Homo sapiens: one gene and its partners. The protein of the gene in region 2 purifies or fractionates together with the protein of the main gene of each other region. This does not show direct contact. Each region holds a gene or a part of one and is shown on either strand. Other genes may lie near its edges.

What was found. The genes of interacting proteins can lie anywhere in the genome.
Region 1: the proteins of HHIPL1 (region 2) and PEAK1 purify together in Homo sapiens (co-immunoprecipitation; one large-scale study listed by IntAct). This does not show direct contact.
Region 3: the proteins of HHIPL1 (region 2) and ACOT9 purify together in Homo sapiens (affinity purification with mass spectrometry; one large-scale study listed by BioGRID and IntAct). This does not show direct contact.
Region 4: the proteins of HHIPL1 (region 2) and MYO1D purify together in Homo sapiens (affinity purification with mass spectrometry; one large-scale study listed by BioGRID and IntAct). This does not show direct contact.

The regions. Positions count from the first base shown.
Region 1 is NC_000015.10:77,108,741-77,112,604, forward strand, and holds part of PEAK1 (inactive tyrosine-protein kinase PEAK1), read right to left. Parts: 3' UTR 1-3,864. UniProt on the Homo sapiens protein: Probable catalytically inactive kinase. Scaffolding protein that regulates the cytoskeleton to control cell spreading and migration by modulating focal adhesion dynamics. Acts as a scaffold for mediating EGFR signaling.
Region 2 is NC_000014.9:99,643,163-99,649,187, forward strand, and holds the start of HHIPL1 (HHIP-like protein 1 isoform a precursor), read left to right. Parts: upstream 1-1,966; 5' UTR 1,967-2,045; coding exon 2,046-2,300; intron 2,301-2,526; exon of another isoform or gene 2,527-2,693; intron 2,694-6,025.
Region 3 is NC_000023.11:23,729,413-23,733,276, forward strand, and holds part of ACOT9 (acyl-coenzyme A thioesterase 9, mitochondrial isoform a precursor), read right to left. Parts: intron 3,806-3,864; coding exon 3,760-3,805; intron 1,575-3,759; coding exon 1,404-1,574; intron 1,153-1,403; coding exon 1,115-1,152; intron 1-1,114. UniProt on the Homo sapiens protein: Mitochondrial acyl-CoA thioesterase. Catalyzes the hydrolysis of acyl-CoAs into free fatty acids and coenzyme A (CoA), regulating their respective intracellular levels. Regulates both mitochondrial lipid and amino acid metabolism.
Region 4 is NC_000017.11:32,754,761-32,758,624, reverse strand, and holds part of MYO1D (unconventional myosin-Id), read left to right. Parts: intron 1-2,962; coding exon 2,963-3,133; intron 3,134-3,864. UniProt on the Homo sapiens protein: Unconventional myosin that functions as actin-based motor protein with ATPase activity. Plays a role in endosomal protein trafficking, and especially in the transfer of cargo proteins from early to recycling endosomes.

The DNA of each region.
Region 1 (3,864 bases), on a different chromosome or scaffold from region 2:
GCTAGGTTAAAAAATGTCCGACCTCTTTTGATTCCCTGAAACTTTCTTGATTTAAAAAACAAAACCAAACCAAACCAAACCATGGGGGTGAATGGGACACGTCAAGATAAAAAGCTGGAATAAACCCAGAGACTTTCTGGAGTGGGAAACATGTAATGGGATGTTGGGAATGCAGGCCCTTGCAGCCCACCTAGGTGGGGAAAGCTTCTAGCAGTGGTTGATGCAAAAATCTATTCTAATTTTAAACAGTTGCAGGGAGGGGGTGTTTAACGGCTGTATAGCACCTTGTACCTTCTGGGCACTTACAGATATTAAATGATGGTGATGATGAATGGTACACAACTCTGTAGGAAGGTTTATAAAAACAATTACAATTTGTTAAGAAATTTCCCAAGAGTTCTTTAAACAAACCTATTTAAACTACCATATCTCTTTAAAAAAATCTTCCGCTCTCAGTATTATATGATGTTCTCAAGCTGAGGTTTGGGCAATAGCCACAGTCATGTCAAGGGGACATGGAAGAGATCCTTCTCCTTAAATACTGAGGAACTTTGTATCTGCCAGGGCTTTCTTCATCTTCATCATCATCATCATCTTCTAATATACAAAATGGACTTCTTTTTAAAAAGGTGCTTTTCTGAGGATGGATTTATCAGCTAAATGCCTTGACATGGAATGTATGTGAACTCCCCTCCCACAGCATCTGTCACAGCTCACCCTCATCATCTTAGAAGCATCAGGATAAAAAGGCTTGATTTCTTTGGTATAATCTCTCCCAGGATCTTGCACTGCAACTCTTCTGGCTTCCCTTATGGCACCGTTTTTGGTCCATGGAATCCCCACTTTTGGCACTGCTGTAAGCACGGACAGCTGGACTTCAGTGCGCACTTCAGCAAGAGCAGCACTTGGATTTGTCTCGGCACAGCACTTTGGGCCTTTGAGAATATGAGCTTCGATGACATAAAGCTAATAACTTGGTTTTGTGGGCAGCCATCCTGTTCACTCATTAGGCTGGAGCGGAATTTTCAATCCTTGTCAACTAGTGAGGAGAATGAAAAACATGCCAGGGTTGGCCCAGCAAGTCCAGTTTGTCTCACCCCTCTCCAAGAATGTTCATACTATATTTACACATCTAGAATCATTTGAAATATAGTGTAGTATCCTAAATCCATCTCTATTTCTGTGACTAGCCTGTACTTTTTCAGATCACTGCTGGTAAAATCTAGAAGAAATCCTAATTGCAGTCAAATCTAGCGAAAACCCTAATTCCAGCAAAACCAAATGTCAGGTTACTTCCCTGAACCAAAGTATTCATAACTCAAAATTGAGACGCTTAGTAGGACCCAAAGATCTTTCCTGGAAACTTTTTTTTGAGACGAAGTTGCTCAATCTCCCAGGCTGGAGTGCGATGGCGTGATCTTGGCTCACTGCAACCTTTGCCTCCTGGGTTCAAGAGATTCTCTTGCCTCAGCCTCCCGAGTAGCTTAGATTACAGGTGCCTGCCATCATGCCCGGCTAATTTTTGTATTTTTAGTAGAGATGGAGTTTCACCATGTTGGCCAGGCTGGTCTCAAACTCCTGACCTCAGGTGATCTGCCCACCTCGCCCTCCTAAAGTGTTGGGATTACAGGCGTGAGCCACTGCGCCTGGCCTGGGAACTTCATACTACTAGAAACTTTTAAGATATAATTTTTAGTAGTTTTACTCCCAGAAATGTCATTAATATTTCTAGAGCTTTAGATCTCTTGGCTTAGACTTTCCCATGTTTACAAACTTATTCTGAGTTTGGAAGCAAAAGTGACCCCCACTTAATCTGATAATGGGAGGCTACTCCAACTGTTAAAATCCTAACCAATATGTTTTACTTCTAGCTCCTCAACAGCAGCAGGGTAGGTAGGATGAGTGCTTGTGCCCTCACCTCAACCCATACCTCACCCAGTTCATCTTCTGAGGGCAAATCTTGAAACTCATTGCCATATTCCTGGCTTCCAGTTCTAGCTCAGCCTAGGGGTTGGTGATTCTTACGTTGTTGTTCCACAGGTTACAGTGACTCTTTTTCTCATCCTGCTGTTATTCTTCATGAATTGGCTTCTAGGCAACCCAGTAGTGTACATATACCAAAAGGGCTCACCTCAGCCAGCACAGGAGGCTTCTTGAAGTTCTAGTCCTCTTTATGAAACATCCACTGAATTGCTTCCAAGACTAGGTTACCACTCTAACAAGGCACTCTGCTATACATTCAGTCTTGCTCTTGGCTACTTTAGCCACTGTTGTGTTTCTCTAGCACCCAAGTGTCACAGAGATTGTTCATGCTCATGTGGCTTAAGGAAAAGTTCCAATAGGAGCTTAATTGTTCAAACTCTCAATATAAATGGAAAACTCTACAGTATAGACTTCAATAGAAAACAATTTCCAATCAATATTGAAGGCAATAACTTCCTGTTACTTGAGAAAATGTAAAGTGCTATACTAGTCACAATTCAAACACATAGATATATAAATGTGTGTGTATGTGTCTACAGAGGGTAGGATTTCTTTCCAGTTGATGAACAAATTCAAAGGTCCTACCACAATTAAAATGAAAAATATTTGTGATAATGTTAAACTGACTGAATTTCATTTTTTTGGAAAAATATTCTGAAGACCAACTCATGTAGTACTTTTTGCCTAGAAATATAGTTTCTTTCTCTATTCTGCTCTAACCTGTAACACCCCCTTCCCTCTCTATCTCACATTCTTTGGCCATCACCCAGAGAAAAATTAATCTAGCCACCTGTCTCTGGGAAGCCTGAGGCTTTTCTCTGGCTAGTTTGCATTCATCTTTTGCCCTTAACAAATCTGAATATAAAAACAGTACTAAAAACATCTGATATGAAGAGGTGCTTGGTTTACCAGTGCTGTAAGATAATGGTAGTGGAGGTGTCCATGCTTATTATACCATAGAGTTAAAGTGAAGACTGGATCCAAATCATAACAGAAAAAGAGAAAGAAAAAAAAAGATAAGTAGAGACATAACAAATAGAGGGACCAGGAAACATTCAGCATTAAATATGTAACCTCATTAAATAGTCAACATTGAAATTTACATGGGCAAGGCACCACGAACATGACATTGAGAAGGTATATCTCAATATGCAAGACATTGCAAGATGGGAGGTGGGGGAGGTTAAGGGAATGTGCTGGCTGACATGGTCAGTGGTCTGTGTGCTGCCCTTCAGTGCATAATCAGGCAAGGAGTTATGTGCACATGTTCTATGCTAAGATGAACCAAACACCAACCTTCAAGGCAAGGCGCGGCCATGCCACAGGACACCAAGAGCAGACTGCTGGCCTGCAGCAGCATGCCCACTCCATGGCCATTCCTAGGAGCAGAGCCCTGCACTCTGGCTAGAGGAGGCAAGACTCTTTGTGGGCTAACCAGCCTTCTTTCCTGTGAGTCCTATATTGCTGGCCAGGGGATAAGGGACATTCTCCAAATAGAGCCTCACATATTACAATCACTTAAAAAAGTAATAAGAGCACAATAAAATACATTATTTTCCTTTCCTGATCCTCTTTGTTATACATGAATCACATGAAAAGCTGTTAAAAATGTTAAAAGTTTAGAAATTTCCAAGGCCACTAATGTGCTATGTAAGTAATACTGCACAGTCAGTCTTGGCTTTAAGGAAACTCTGCACTGGTAGATGAGGGGCCTCAGGGCTCACTCACTCACTAGGCACAGAGAACATGTCTGTCAACCCTGCCACAGGTTGCTTTTCTAGAGGCCTGGCCTCTACTTCCAGCATGCGTGTGCACGCACACATGGGCACACAAGTGTACACACACATTGTTCGAGTGACTCTTGGGATTTCAAGGTCAAAG
Region 2 (6,025 bases):
CCCAGTAGCTGGGATTATAGGCGCGTGCCACCACGCCTGGCTAATTTTTGTATTTTTAGTAGAGACGAGATTTCACCATGTTGACCAGGCTGGTTTCGAACTCCTGACCTCGGGTGATCCGCCCGCCTCAGCCTCCCAAAGTTCTGGGATTACAGGCGTGAGCCACTGTGCCCGGCTCCTGACTGTGACTTTTCTTATCTTTTTTTCATGCCTTGTTGTTTTTCTGGAAAGCCAATCAGGATGTACTAGATAACAGAAACCGAGGTAAATAGGTATTAGGGTGAGGATTTATGTTACTCTGGCTGGGGCTGGGCTGTGTTTGACATTTTCTGTGGCTGTAGGAGCCCAAACCTCATGGCTGTGGCCCAGGCTCTGTGTCACTTCCACCTCTGTACACTCATCTGGAGCCCTGTGTTGATGTGTGACTATCACCCAGTTCTGAGTCCCAGCTGGGAAGTAGGCGCCATCGTGCCCTCCGATTCCATCCTGGCTCTGCCTATTCCCAGCTGTCTGTGCAGGAAGCCGTTGCAGGCCGCATTTCCCACCCTAGCAGCCCTCTGCTAGGTTCAGCCAATGAAAGCCACAGGTGGGAGTTGGAGGGGAAGTGGCAGGGAGAAGCCGGGGTATTTCTCCTCCTCTGTCTGTGCAGAATCTCTGACAGTGGCTATCTCCAGCTGTGGCCAGACAGGCCTTGTGAGGGTCCAGCTTTGACAAGGTGACCATAGCTCCTTGGCTCCAGTAACATCTGCTCTTCCTGCATCAAGGACCTGGGGACTGTTCCTACTGTTGCTGATCTCAAGGTTACTTCACTGAGCCCTGTATGGCTTCTTAGCCTCTTTGGCTTCAAGTCCCTGCGTTAAATTCCCCGTGTTTCAAATACTCAGAGATGTTTGGCTGTGCGGAGACCCTGACTCTTACACTGCACCTGTTCAGGCCAGAGCCACAGACCTCTGAGTGCTCCAGCCCTGCCGCATCTCATCCACCCCCAGCTCTGCCAGGAGCATGGGCCCAAAGACAGAAACATGATCCCCCAGGACAGTCCAAAGAGACCTGCAGAGGACGGATGTGTGCGTTGGGGCCATGAAGATGGAGTAGGAGCTCACTGGACAGAGAAGATGGGGAAGGACACTCCAGGGAGAAGCAAACGCTGAGGTCCACTTGAGAAAAATGCCTGGGTGGTTTTGGTGCTGTGAGATTCTAGGGTAGGTGAGACAGTGTGTGTGTGTTTGTCTGTGTGGGTGGTTTTGGTGCCATGAGATTCTGGGGTAGGTAAGACAGCGTGTGTGCGTCTGTATGTGTGTGGGGGGGTGGGGCGGGGTTGGGTCTGAATCTCCAGCGGGGGCAGCGGAACAAAGGGCTGGATGCCCATCCCAGGAGGTAGATTCATCAGTGCTCCCTATGCGAGAGTGGAAGTGGGGAGCCCCAGTGGGTCCTGGGCTGCAGGAGAATCCGCTGCCCCAGGAGCAGAGACTGGGAAGAAGCCCACAGTAAGGGCAAAGGGTGGACTGCGGAGACTGCTCCGTCCTCCCTCCCCACCCCTACGCCAGGTTTCACTTCTCCCTGAGAGTCCTGGGGCAACACCCCCTGTTCTTTCCCTCGCACCCCCATTTTTAAAATGTTACGTGGGAGCTTTCGGGGACGGGCTGCGGGCATCCGTTTCCCTAGCCCAGTGGGAGGTGGAACCGAAGCCCAGGAGTCCAGGCCTCTGGCCCTGCGCCTCCCTGGCTAAAGAGCGCCCTGTGGGGAGGAAGCAGGGCCCCAGGCGGAACCGGGAAAACACACCGGGGCTTTAAACAGACCGGGCCACTCCCATCGAATTTGGAAAGCGGTTAAAAGAGGTCGTGCCGCATTCTGCGCCGCGTCCCTCTTCCTTCAGTCCCGCCGAGTGTCCCCGACCAGAGGTGACCTCCTAGAAGGGGAGGTCCCCAAACTCGAGGCCCTGCGTGTAGGGAAGGGGAGCGCCCGCCCCTTCCCTGCCGCCGCGAGCGCCCCGGGAGGGGACCGGGGCTGCCGTCCCTCCGCCTCTTCCCCCGCGGGGCGTAGCGATGGCCCGGGCCAGGGCCGGGGCGCTGCTGGCGCTTTGGGTGCTCGGGGCCGCCGCGCATCCGCAGTGCCTGGACTTCAGGCCGCCCTTCCGGCCGACGCAGCCGCTGCGCCTCTGCGCGCAGTACTCGGACTTCGGCTGCTGCGATGAGGGGCGCGACGCCGAGCTGACCCGCCGCTTCTGGGCCCTGGCGAGCCGCGTGGACGCCGCCGAGTGGGCCGCGTGCGCCGGCTACGCGAGGGACCTGCTGTGCCAGGTGAGCGGGCGCGCGGCCACCGGGCGGGGCGGGGCGCGGGAGGCCGAGTCCTGGAGCAGAGATCGGAACCCCGCGGGGGCGAGGGCCAAGAGTGGGCGGCGGACTCGGGAACTCTAAGCCCCAACAGGGAGTCATTTGGCACGGGGCGGGGAGACCGCGCATCCCAGGACGACTCTTGGCTTTGCCATTCATTAGTTTTGTGACTTGGGCCTTCTCGGGGCCTCAGTTTCCCCTCCTGAAGCAGGAAGGACGGACGGACGGACAGATGATGTCATCATTTCCTCAGAGGTTGGGGGCTCTTCTGCCCCAGTCCCCTGGAGTCGACCCCTCAGCGTCCCACCCCGAGCAGCTGCACCCTTGTCGGGGTACCAAGGTGGAGAGGCATCTGTCCCGGTCAGTGCTCCTTTGTGTTGTCCCCGGGGCAGTGAAAGCAGGGGGCCCTGGCGTGGGCGTGGTCAACGTGTGGCCCGGGTTTGTTGAGGGGGTTGGGGCCACTGTCCCCCACGAGCGTCTCACCCCCATCCTGATGCCCTTGCCACTTCCGCCACCACCTCTGTGGGTGCTGTGCCCTCTCCTGGGGATGGCGCCCTGGCCTGCAGAAGCTCTCTCAAGACTGAGCGACAGCTCTTTGTTGAAGCCCCTGGGCCCCCCATCTTCCCTCTGAGGGTGGAGCCCCTGCTTCTGTGCACACCTGGTGGTGCCACCGCTATTTGTTTTCCTCTTGTGGGAGTCTGAGGCCCCAGGGCCTGACCACACCCAAGTGGGCAAATGTTGCCTGGCTGAATGCAGAAATGGAGCAGGACGGGCAGCCCCAAGGCATTCCTGCCTCAGCATCTGGGCAGTGAGAGGCCTGGGGTGGAGAGGCCCCAGGGGCCAGGGCCGTGTCCCAGCCTTCGGCCAGCAGGGGCAGGTGGTGTGGGGAAGGGCAAGAAGGCTGACTTGGAGTTGGAGTTTGATCCTGGCTCTGTCACTTCCCCAGCTTCGTGACCTGGGCAGGTCACTGCTGCACCTCACAATATCTTTAAAATGAAGCTGAGTATGGTGGCTTATGCCTGTAATCCCAGCACTTTGGGAGGCCAAGGTGGGCAGATCACTTGAGGTCAGGAGTTCGAGACCAGCCTGGCCAACATGGCGAAACTCCATCTCTACAAAAATACAAAAATTAACTGGGCATGTTGGGGAGCTCCTGTAATCCCAGCTACTCGGGAGGCTGAGGCAGGAGAAGCACTTGACTCTGGGAGGCAGAGGTTGCAGTGAGCCAAGATTGAGCCACTGCACCCCAGCCTGGGCAACAGAGCAAGACTCCGTCTCAAAAATATAATATAATATAATATGATATGATATGATATGATATGATATGATATGATATGATATAATATAATATAATATAATATAATATGATATAATATGATACATAAAATAAATAAAATAAAACCTTAACCACCCCCCTGGGTGGCCATGCAGATTAAATGCCACATACTAGGGGCTCGGTAAGTGTTTGCAGTTGGATTTCTCGAGGGCTTCCTTGGCCCTCACTGGCTGCCCAGCCCTGGGAAGGGTCCAGGTGAGGCTTGGAGCCCGAATCAAGGAAGACTCAGAGGCAGGCAGGGACTTGCCCAGTGGTCGCACAGCCCAGCGGTGGTTGAGGTGGGGACATGGACCACACTCGCTGAAGCGAGCTCATATCTTAGGTGGGAAGCAGTAGACTCTGGGAGGATGAGGAGGGGGCCCTGGGGAGCTCCAGAATGCAACAGAGGGTGGGCTGGCCACCTTTAGGTGGGCTCTGCTGGACTCCCATGCTGTACACCTCAAGGGCACGGGAATGGTCTGGCCAAGCGTCTGCCTCCCTCACCAGCCTGGGGGCTCCTCAGGACCAGGTCCTTTGGTCTCCCTACCCCCATCACATAGCAGAGTTCCTGCATCCATGCCACATTTGTCTATTGAGCACTTGCTATGTGCCAGGCTCAGCACGGCAGTGAGGTGGGCAGGTGGATGGAGGAAGGGAAGGGTCAGTCCTGATGCTGTCCCCTGGCAGGTTTCTTGGGAAACTTCCCAGGACAGCCTGGCTTTAAGCAACCAGCAGTTAGCAGGAGTGACCACTAACACTTCAGCCCAGGCGTCTCTGAGAGTGACCTCATGTCTGGAGTGAGCTTAGAGACGGCGGCTGAGGCTGGGTTATGGTTTCACTGACGGGGCCTCCTGGAGCATGCTGGCGGGAGGACCATGCTCTCTGCTAGCCAAGGCAGAGTCTGCATTTGGCACCTCCTGATTTCCACACGGGGAGGTGGTGGAGGTGCCTTATTCATAGGTCTCTGTCAGTGTGGAGGCACTCAGGCCTTCACACCTGCTTTGGGGGGATGGGAGACTCTTTCCTGAGGCTTTGCTTGTCCAGTAAGTGCCTGTGTCCTCTGGAGGAGAGAGGACAGCCATGGCACGTGGCATCCCCAGTGCATCTGGTGTGAGCTTCCACATCGCTAACCTCCCCTGTGACTGGGGTTGCCTCTCTAAGCCACTAAAATCATCAAAGCATGGTTTCTGATGGAGATCTCCATGAAATGTATTCTATGGGCTCATGTATTCAGCAGGCTCTTCCTGAGCCTGTTAGGAGGCAGCCCTGTGCTGGATGCTGGGCCCAAAAACAGTTGGCAAGTCACAGGCCCAGTCTCAAAAATCCCCTTCATCACTTCAGGAGACTGACACACACAGGAAGGTGCCAGAAATTCCTCAAGGAGTGTAGGAACAAGGCCACATACCTCAGGGAAGGCTTCCTGAATGTTGGTTGCATGTTGATAGCTCATTATTTACTGAACAAACACATACATCTTCTCCATTTGTTCCTCCCAACAACTCTATGAGGTTGGAATTCCTTTCCCCTTCCACAGATGAGGACATAGGCACAGAGAGGTTAAGGAGCTTGCCCACGGTTAAGAGCAGTAAGAGGTTAAGGAGCATTCCCCATGGGGAATGTGTGCGCTGGCTCCAAAGCCATTCTCCTAACCGCTTTGCCACACTGCCTCCCTCCTTGAAGCCCCACTGTGTCCCACAGTCCGTGGAGTGGACAGACATGCAAAGAGATAATGAAGTCCTAGCCAAGCTGACTGGCTGGAGCGCCCCTGGCGACGGAGCAGTGACTGCTGTAGAGAACTCACCCTGTAAGCTACAAGATTCAATGGAGTGAGTGTCGTGTCTGAGATATGGACAGAGTGCATTGGGAGCATCCATAAGGGCCAGGGATGGGACAGTCAGAGCCCTGGGAGCATGGAGGACAAGAGGAGACCTTTGAGTAGGCCTTGAGTCATGAATAGCAGTTTGCCAGATGAGGAAGTAGGTGAGAAGCAAATATCCGATGGACAGGACACTGTGCAAAGGCTTGCTCTTTCAAAAAATGAACGGTGGACATAAGAAACCTTCAGGACCCAGGGCCATGAGTCACGAGTGTCAGTGACATGGGGGTGGCAAACTCTGGGCAAGATGGGGGCCCTCCGCCCTGCACTGAATGGCCCGGGCGGCTGAAGCCTGCGATACTGGGCTGGTTTCCTATGGCCTTCCTGCCACCTGCCCCTAAACACACTGAGGCCAAGCTGCGGATCATCCTCTTGCCAGCAGCAATCACTATGTCTTCTTGTCACTTCCTAGCTCTGGACTACCCTGGTCTGGGCACCACATTTACGTCGTGTGTAAGTAAGAGTACATAGGCCACGAGGAAGCATCTGCTGTGTGATTGG
Region 3 (3,864 bases), on a different chromosome or scaffold from region 2:
ACTGGATCCTTCTGCTATGAAGGACCACTGGCAAAAGTTGAATGGGACCTGAGGATTAGACAGTATGACACATCAGTGTTAATTTCCTGATTTTTTATGGTTGTTTTGTAGTTATGTAGAAGAATGTCCTTGTTTGTAGGAAAGACATATTCAAATATTTGGGGGTGATGTGGCATCATGTCAGCCACTTATTCTCACATAATTCAGGGACAAAAAATTTTTTTCTTTTTTATTTTTGAGACGGAGTCTCACTCTGTCGCCCAGGCTGGAGTGCAGTGGCGCGATCTCGGCTCAATGCAACCTCCACCTCCCAGGTTCAAGTGATTCTCCTGCCTCAGCCTCCTGAATAGCTGGGACTACAGGCGTATGCCACCACGCCTGGCTAATTTTTTGTATTTTTAGTAGAGATGGGGTTTCACCATGTTAGCCAGGATGGTCTCGATCTCCTGACCTTGTGATCTGCCTGCCTCAGCCTCCCAAAGTGCTGGGATTATAGGCGTGAGCCACCGCGCCTGGCCACAGAAAAATTCTTTATACTGTATTTGCAACTTTTCTGTAAGTTTAAGACTTTCTTTTTTTAAAGTTACTAGTAAGAAAGATTATTCAGACTATACCTCCATTAAATAGGAATCTACATTTATAAGAAAAAAATTATGACAATTCAGAAGTAGTAGATGCCATTTTTTTTTTTTTTTTTTGGAGATGGAGTTTCACTCTTGTTACCCAGGCTGTAGTGCAATGGCACGATCTCAGCTCACCGCAACCTCTGCCTCCCAGGTTCAAGTGATTCTCTTGCCTCAGCCTCCCAAGTAGCTGGGATTACGGCGCCCACCAACACAACTGGCTAATTTTGTATTTTTAGTAGAGACGGGGTTTCTCCATGTTGGTCAGGCTGGTCTCAAACTCCCAACCTCAAGTGATCCGCCCGCCTCAGCCTCCCAAAGTGCTGGGATTACAGGCATGAGCCACCACGCCCGGCCGATGTCCTTCTTTTTTTGTGCACTTTAGAATATCATCATCTGTGCAGGTTAAAGAATAAAAGAGCCCTTTCCAGTCACAGAATTCAATGTATATCTGTAGGTATCTATTAGAAAGACTAAAATAATACCAGTACCTCCCAAGCTGTCAAGATCCTCAAGAATCCTGCCAAATCTGTGAAATAAAGCAAACAGTGAATTAAATGCAAATCATGTTGGTCTCCCTTTAAAAATAAATAACACACTTCAGGGTGATGAAAATGTTCTAAAATTGACTGTGGTGATGGATGCACAACTCTCTAAATATATCAAAACCATGGAACTGTACACTTTAAACAGGCGAATTGTATGGTGTGTGAATTATATTTCAAAATTGTTATAAAACAAGGAAATAAAAACAAATACATAAAAATAGCACTGTGTTACCTTACGGTGTTTTGAACAGTCAAATATTTCTCTCGTAATTCAGGCTCACTGCCCAAAGGCAAGAGAACTTCAATATAACTGTCCTTCATTCTCCTAGGAGGCAGTCCATCCTGTGATTTAGCCAAGAAACTATGAAGTAATTTCCTTTCTTCCATTGCCTTCACATGGTCTCTGAGAAGAAAGGATGCAGGATTCATAAAACAAGAGCAGTTCTAGCCCACAATTCCAGTGGTACACAGGCCAGTAAGATACCATCAAAGGAGGAAAAAGAAGGTCTGGGCCTACTTTCACCTTCTCTTCCTTCCCTCCCTTCCCACCTGCCACTTGGTGAAATTGATCATTTCCGGTATCATTTCTCAAGCTTAAAAACATTCTTAAGGCCAGGTGCAGTGTCTCACGCCTGTAATCCCAGCATTTTGGGAGGCCAAGGCGGGTGGATCACACGAGGTCAGGGGTTCAAGACCAGCCTGGCCAACATGGCAAAACTCCGTCTCTACTAAAAATACAAAAAATTAGCCAGGTGTGGTGGTGGGCACCTGTAATCCCAGCTACTTGGTAGGCTGAGGCAGGAGAATTGCTTGAACGTGGGAGGCGGAGGTTGCAATGAGCCAAGATCACACCACTGCACTCCAGCCTGGGCAACAGAGCAAGACTGTCTCAAAAAAAAAAAAAAAAAAGAAAACTTAAAACTGATATAGATATACCCAAATGAGCCATATATTCACCCTTATCAAAAAGTTTACTCAAAGACCAGAATATTTGAAATTAAATTAAAAATTTAGAGAGATGGACAAAATAGTATATATATATACATATAAATATATATGCTAAAGAATGGCTTGGCCACTCTACTTTATATTCCCATTTCTCACCTGACAGTTCTCGGATTCTTTGAGCCCCAGTTCTCTCTCTCTCTCTGCCTTCAATTTCAGGAAAGAGAGACAGAGGAGGGAAAATGGACTATATCCAAAGGAAGTATGGAAGGCAGAACAAAAGGTAAAGAAGAACATAACATGAAAAGGAGACAGAAAGGGAAGAAAAAGAAGAGAAGATTAAGGTGAAAGAGAAAAGAAAGACAAGGGGATACGGAACGACAATGTTGATAAGAACATTAGCTAAGATGTCTTTCTAAGCTTAACTTATAAAGTATTATTTCCAGAAATGTTTACCCTACAAAAACTACAGGAGATAGAGGAATGAGTTAAATGACACCAGTAAATCCAGAATGTGGAACATTCTCAAGACAAATGGCTTGGCCTCCTTAAAGTCAAGCTCATGGGGGAAGAATAGGGGAAGGACGACTGTCCATTACTCTAGATTAGGGAAGACTAAAGAGTCATAACCACCAGATGCAACATGCAATCCTTTATTGGATCTTGATGTTTTTTAAACAGCTATAAAAACATTTTTGTTAAAAGGAGTAATCTATTACACAAAATGGTAACAGTTGAGGAAATGTGACTATGGATGAGTAATATACTAGCAAGGAATTGCTGTCAATTTGATTACATGAGAGAATGTCTTATTTGTTGGAGATAAGCGAAGGCTGGTTTTATAAAATGTTTACTGAAGATGCACGCTGAAGTGTCATGGTGTCTATAATTTACTTAGAAATGGTTCAGGCAATATGTGTATATTGGAAAATTTGGCAAAATATTAATAAGTATGGAATCCAGGTGGTGGGTACACAGGTATTCATTCTTTCTACCTTTTAGTAAAGTGAAATTTTTCATATAAAGAATTTAAAAATAAGTCATTAGATAATTTCTATACCAACAATAGATTATTATATATCTAGTGATCACTCGTGTTTTTTCTATCTCATTTTAGCCTCAAAATTATGTACACCAAGAGGGATATGATCCTACTTTACAACAAGGAAATACTGCGAGAAAGAGAAAGACAATATGGGAGGCCTGACTAATTTTGAACTGACAAGAAGCAATAAAGGAGTCAAGTTGCATGAAACAGAGAAACTTAGCGACTTGGGTTCAAGTCCCAAACCCTGACATTTAATCATTCAATCTCTGAGTTTCAGTTTCATGTGTAAAAAAAGGAACAGGAACATATGTCGTAAGCACGTCACAAGTTTTGTTATGAGAATCAGTGAAGTAATATACACCTAAATGCACTTTGAAAATGCAGAATATACGTAAATCATCTTCTTTCATGACAATGAGGTGTCATCTGATGAGTATGTTGAAATGTTGACCTTCTCCCCCAAGCAAAATACTTCTCAACCTATCTCTGAACATAGGGCTCCCCATCCCCACTGTGAGACCATCAACTGAGCCTAAATACAGTGTAGTATAATACCTTGGGGATGAAAAGAATGAATGAAAACAAAGATGCATACCTCCAGTTTGTGGATGCTCCTACTATCTCCCGCAACTTATCTCGAACTGAAACAAAAATAAAGAGGTCATTCCATGAAACAAAGAAATATGAGAAACGGATTATG
Region 4 (3,864 bases), on a different chromosome or scaffold from region 2:
CAGTTGATTGCCAGTCTTATGCCATCTGTACTATACCCACCTACTCCCAGATTATTTTGAAGCAAATTTCAGATATCACATTATTTCATCTATTCAATTGGGTATCTATTCAGTAAATATTTCCATGTATTTCTCTAAGAGAGTTTTACAAAAACCATAATCACAATGCCATTATCATACCTAAAACATTAACAAAAATTCCTTAATATCATAAAATATCCAGTCAGTATACATGTTTCATATTTCCTTAATTGTCTTCTGGTTGTTGTTTTGCAGGTTAAATTTGGATCCAAATAAGTTTCTTACATTATGATTGATTGATAGGTCTCTTGCATATCTATAGATTTTCTCCATGTTTCTTTTTTTCCTTGAATGATCTCTCTTTGCAATCTTGTGTTGAAGAGAATGAGTCATTTGTTATGGAGTTCCCCACAGTCTGGATTTTGCTAATTGCATTCCTCAGGTGCCATTTAATATGTTTCTCTGTTTCTTGTATGTCCTGTATATTGGTTGTTAGATCTAGAGTCTTGACTGGATTCAGAGTCAGTTTTTTTCCACAGCCCATTTCATAGACTGTGTGTGAACTTCCACCAGGAGGTTCATAATGTCTGGTTATCTGGTACATTCACTTTTAAAAGCTTTCGATGCTGTAGTTTGCAAATCATTTTAACTATTGAGAACTTGATACTCAAGCACAAAGCTGTTTTATCTGGAGTGGGTATGAAAGGCCAGAGCCCCATGTCCCTAAGCTACCCCATCACAAGTCTTCTGGCTCCTGGTATCCCTTAGGAAACCTTACGGGAATGCCAAGTTGCTGGAAGAACTTAGTTTGAAAACTACTGGTTTAAGCAATGTTTGAAGCAGTATTAAACTTACAAACTGAAAGTTACTAGCAGAGACCAATAGCTTTTAATAATATAATTGGGATTTTAGGGAAGGTAATTCTTTAGTCCCTGGGACAAAAGACTTCGTCTTTAATTTCACAGTCCCGAAGTCTAAGATGTCAACTATTAATATAGAGCTCCTGCTTTTTGAGTATTTTTAGGATTTTTTTTCCAAAGATGGAAATAACTTTTCTCCCTAATTAGAAATGTAATAAATGCCCATAATGAAAGTAAATATTTAGACCTACACTGCTTCACCTCAGTACTACTGAGATTTTGTGCCAGATAGTTCTTTGTTGTGGAGGCTGTTCTATGCATTGTAGGATGTTTAGCAGCACCCCTGGCCTCTACCCACCAAATGACAGTAGCACCCCTACCCCATTTTGACTAGAAATGTCTCCTGATATTGCCAAATGTCCCCTGGTGAGCAAAATTCCCCCTATTCCCCTATTTGAGAAACTTTAGTTTAGACAGATCAGAAAAGTATAAAAAACAAAGTAAAAACTACCCAGTTTACAGGTTTCAGTCCATAAGATACAGAAGAGAACATGCAAGACTAGAAATGGAGCTAAAAGCCATGTACAAATAACTGGCATAAAACCTTGGATTTTAAAGCATGAAATGGGAATACATGAGTCACTTGAATGGTCTATTATGAGTATATAGACCTTATAGAAGGTAATGGAGACAGCAATCAGTTTAGGTAACTCCTGCGTAAGATGGGACATAGCAAGATTAAACTGTGTGATCATAAGCTGCCCCTCTTTGAGATGTGCAGCTTGCCTGAGTTGGCCTTTCTTTGTGTGCCTTCTGTGTGTAGTGATAGGTACATTGCAGGCTGTCAGAATAAACAGGTGTGGCAGAGGATTGTTGGACAAACCTTGTACATGTATAGTTGCTGAAAAGCCAGAAGTTATTTATAACTTCATTCACCTTGTGGAAGTAAAGGAAAAGCTTTTTCTTATCTTTTATAGATATTTATTTCTCAGAATTAAATTCTTTATATTATGCCTAGAAAAATGTAAAAATTCTACTGAATTTTTTCAAATTGTTCAAAATTCTATTGAAGCTTTTTAACTTTGGGGAAACCAAAAGAAATGCTCTTTTGGATTTTAGTCATTCAGGGTCATGTAACTAAAAATGCAAGTTCTTTTTTTTTTTTTTCCGTTTTAAGTGGAGTTTATTTAACACTAAGAGATAAAGGGTTGTTAACAAACACAATGACAAATGGACATCTGATTGGGATGAGGCATTATCCTGTACACATAATGTTGATATTTTTGTGTACCCTCAGTGCATGGCATTTACACATAGAGCCACTACTGCACAGCACAAGAGTATCTGAAGAGGCTGAATCAGAGTAAGGCTGTTTAAAAGACTGAAATTTTTTAGTATATATATTCTGCATGAAAACAGAACTTTTGAACTGGCAGGTAGAAGGCAACTCTGCCAAACACTACAGTTAAAGCCCCCACTTTAGTGCACAGTTCCACCCCTTCCATCTGCATGCGTGACACATTAACAGTATTTAAAGGTAAACGAGGCACTTTGTGGCAACTGCAGCCATCGTTATGAACATATTGCACAAAATTTCTAGAACTAAACATTTAACTTGTACCCTACTTTTATAAAATTGCAAGTTTTGTGTAGTACCTTAACTTTATTATGAAGTAGTATATCAGATAATACTTTAAGGTTATTTGTTGGCCCTTTGTGGAAGGTGGACCTTACAGTTAATGGCAGGCAGATTGGTATGAAGGAGTAGGGTTGGGTGTGGGATCTGGAGGCAGGATTAAAATGAGTTTGTAATGGGAGAAATGGTGTCTACCTTATTATCTTTGCCTTGGGCTGTACTAATCTCAGACGGTGTATTTCATGATAGAAAGTTAACAAAGAAATTTAAAAATAAACCTCTGTTAGAATGTGTACTCTTTTTAGCGTAAGACCTCTTTAATGTTATTCACACATTTGACACCAAAGTAGTTTTACCTGAACTCCTGATACAAATGGGAGCATCAGGGTTTAACCTGGCCTGGTCACTGTTCTCTTCAGAATTCCCTCCTTGCTGTGTCCTACAGATTGACTACTTCAACAATCAGATCATTGTTGACCTCGTGGAGCAACAGCACAAAGGGATCATTGCAATCCTTGATGATGCTTGCATGAATGTCGGCAAAGTCACCGATGAAATGTTTCTTGAAGCACTTAACAGTAAATTGGGCAAACACGCCCATTTTTCCAGCCGAAAGGTAATGTGTTTAATGACACCTTCTTCCTTTTATCTGTGAGGTTCTCCTTATTGTTTGATGGAGTTCAACGACTTTATATGTTGGGATAAAAGAATGTCCCCTTTAATAAGAAAGAAAAGTCATAAACATTCATTAAATGATTTGTTGCTGTGGATAAATTCTGCCTCTCTGGTTTATAGTATGAAGAAATTGATAAAATCATGTTAATCCAGGAGAGGGAGCTCCAGACTATGCAATTTGGTAGAAACAGGAAAAATGAGCATGATTCTTTAGAAAGCATGATGTCATTTGTAACCAATAGATGTAGAGTCCTTGCTCATGTGCTAGAATTTTACTCCTGCATCTGATAATTCTGGCATGGAAAATAGCTTTTGTCCTTGACTTTTTACTGTAATCCTCAGTAACAAAATGTGTTGTGCACTCTGCTGTACTTCTTCAGATCATATGACTTCCTTGAAAACAGAGAGATTCTAGTTGTAATTCTAGTTATTACAGAGAAACTTATTCATTAAATAAATGGGTATCCTTTTAACTCTCCATTTTTCAGGATCTAAAAAAGTGATAAACAGATCACATATCTGTAGTAATTGGTGACAATTGTGCTTATCAGACCTTTGTGCTGATATGGACATATCATTTGCATGGAATATTCCATTTGCATGGAATATGTTTGCTATTAATATTTGTTCAAGAAATTTGTGTTAGAAGAGGAACACATCATCATCGCCCCT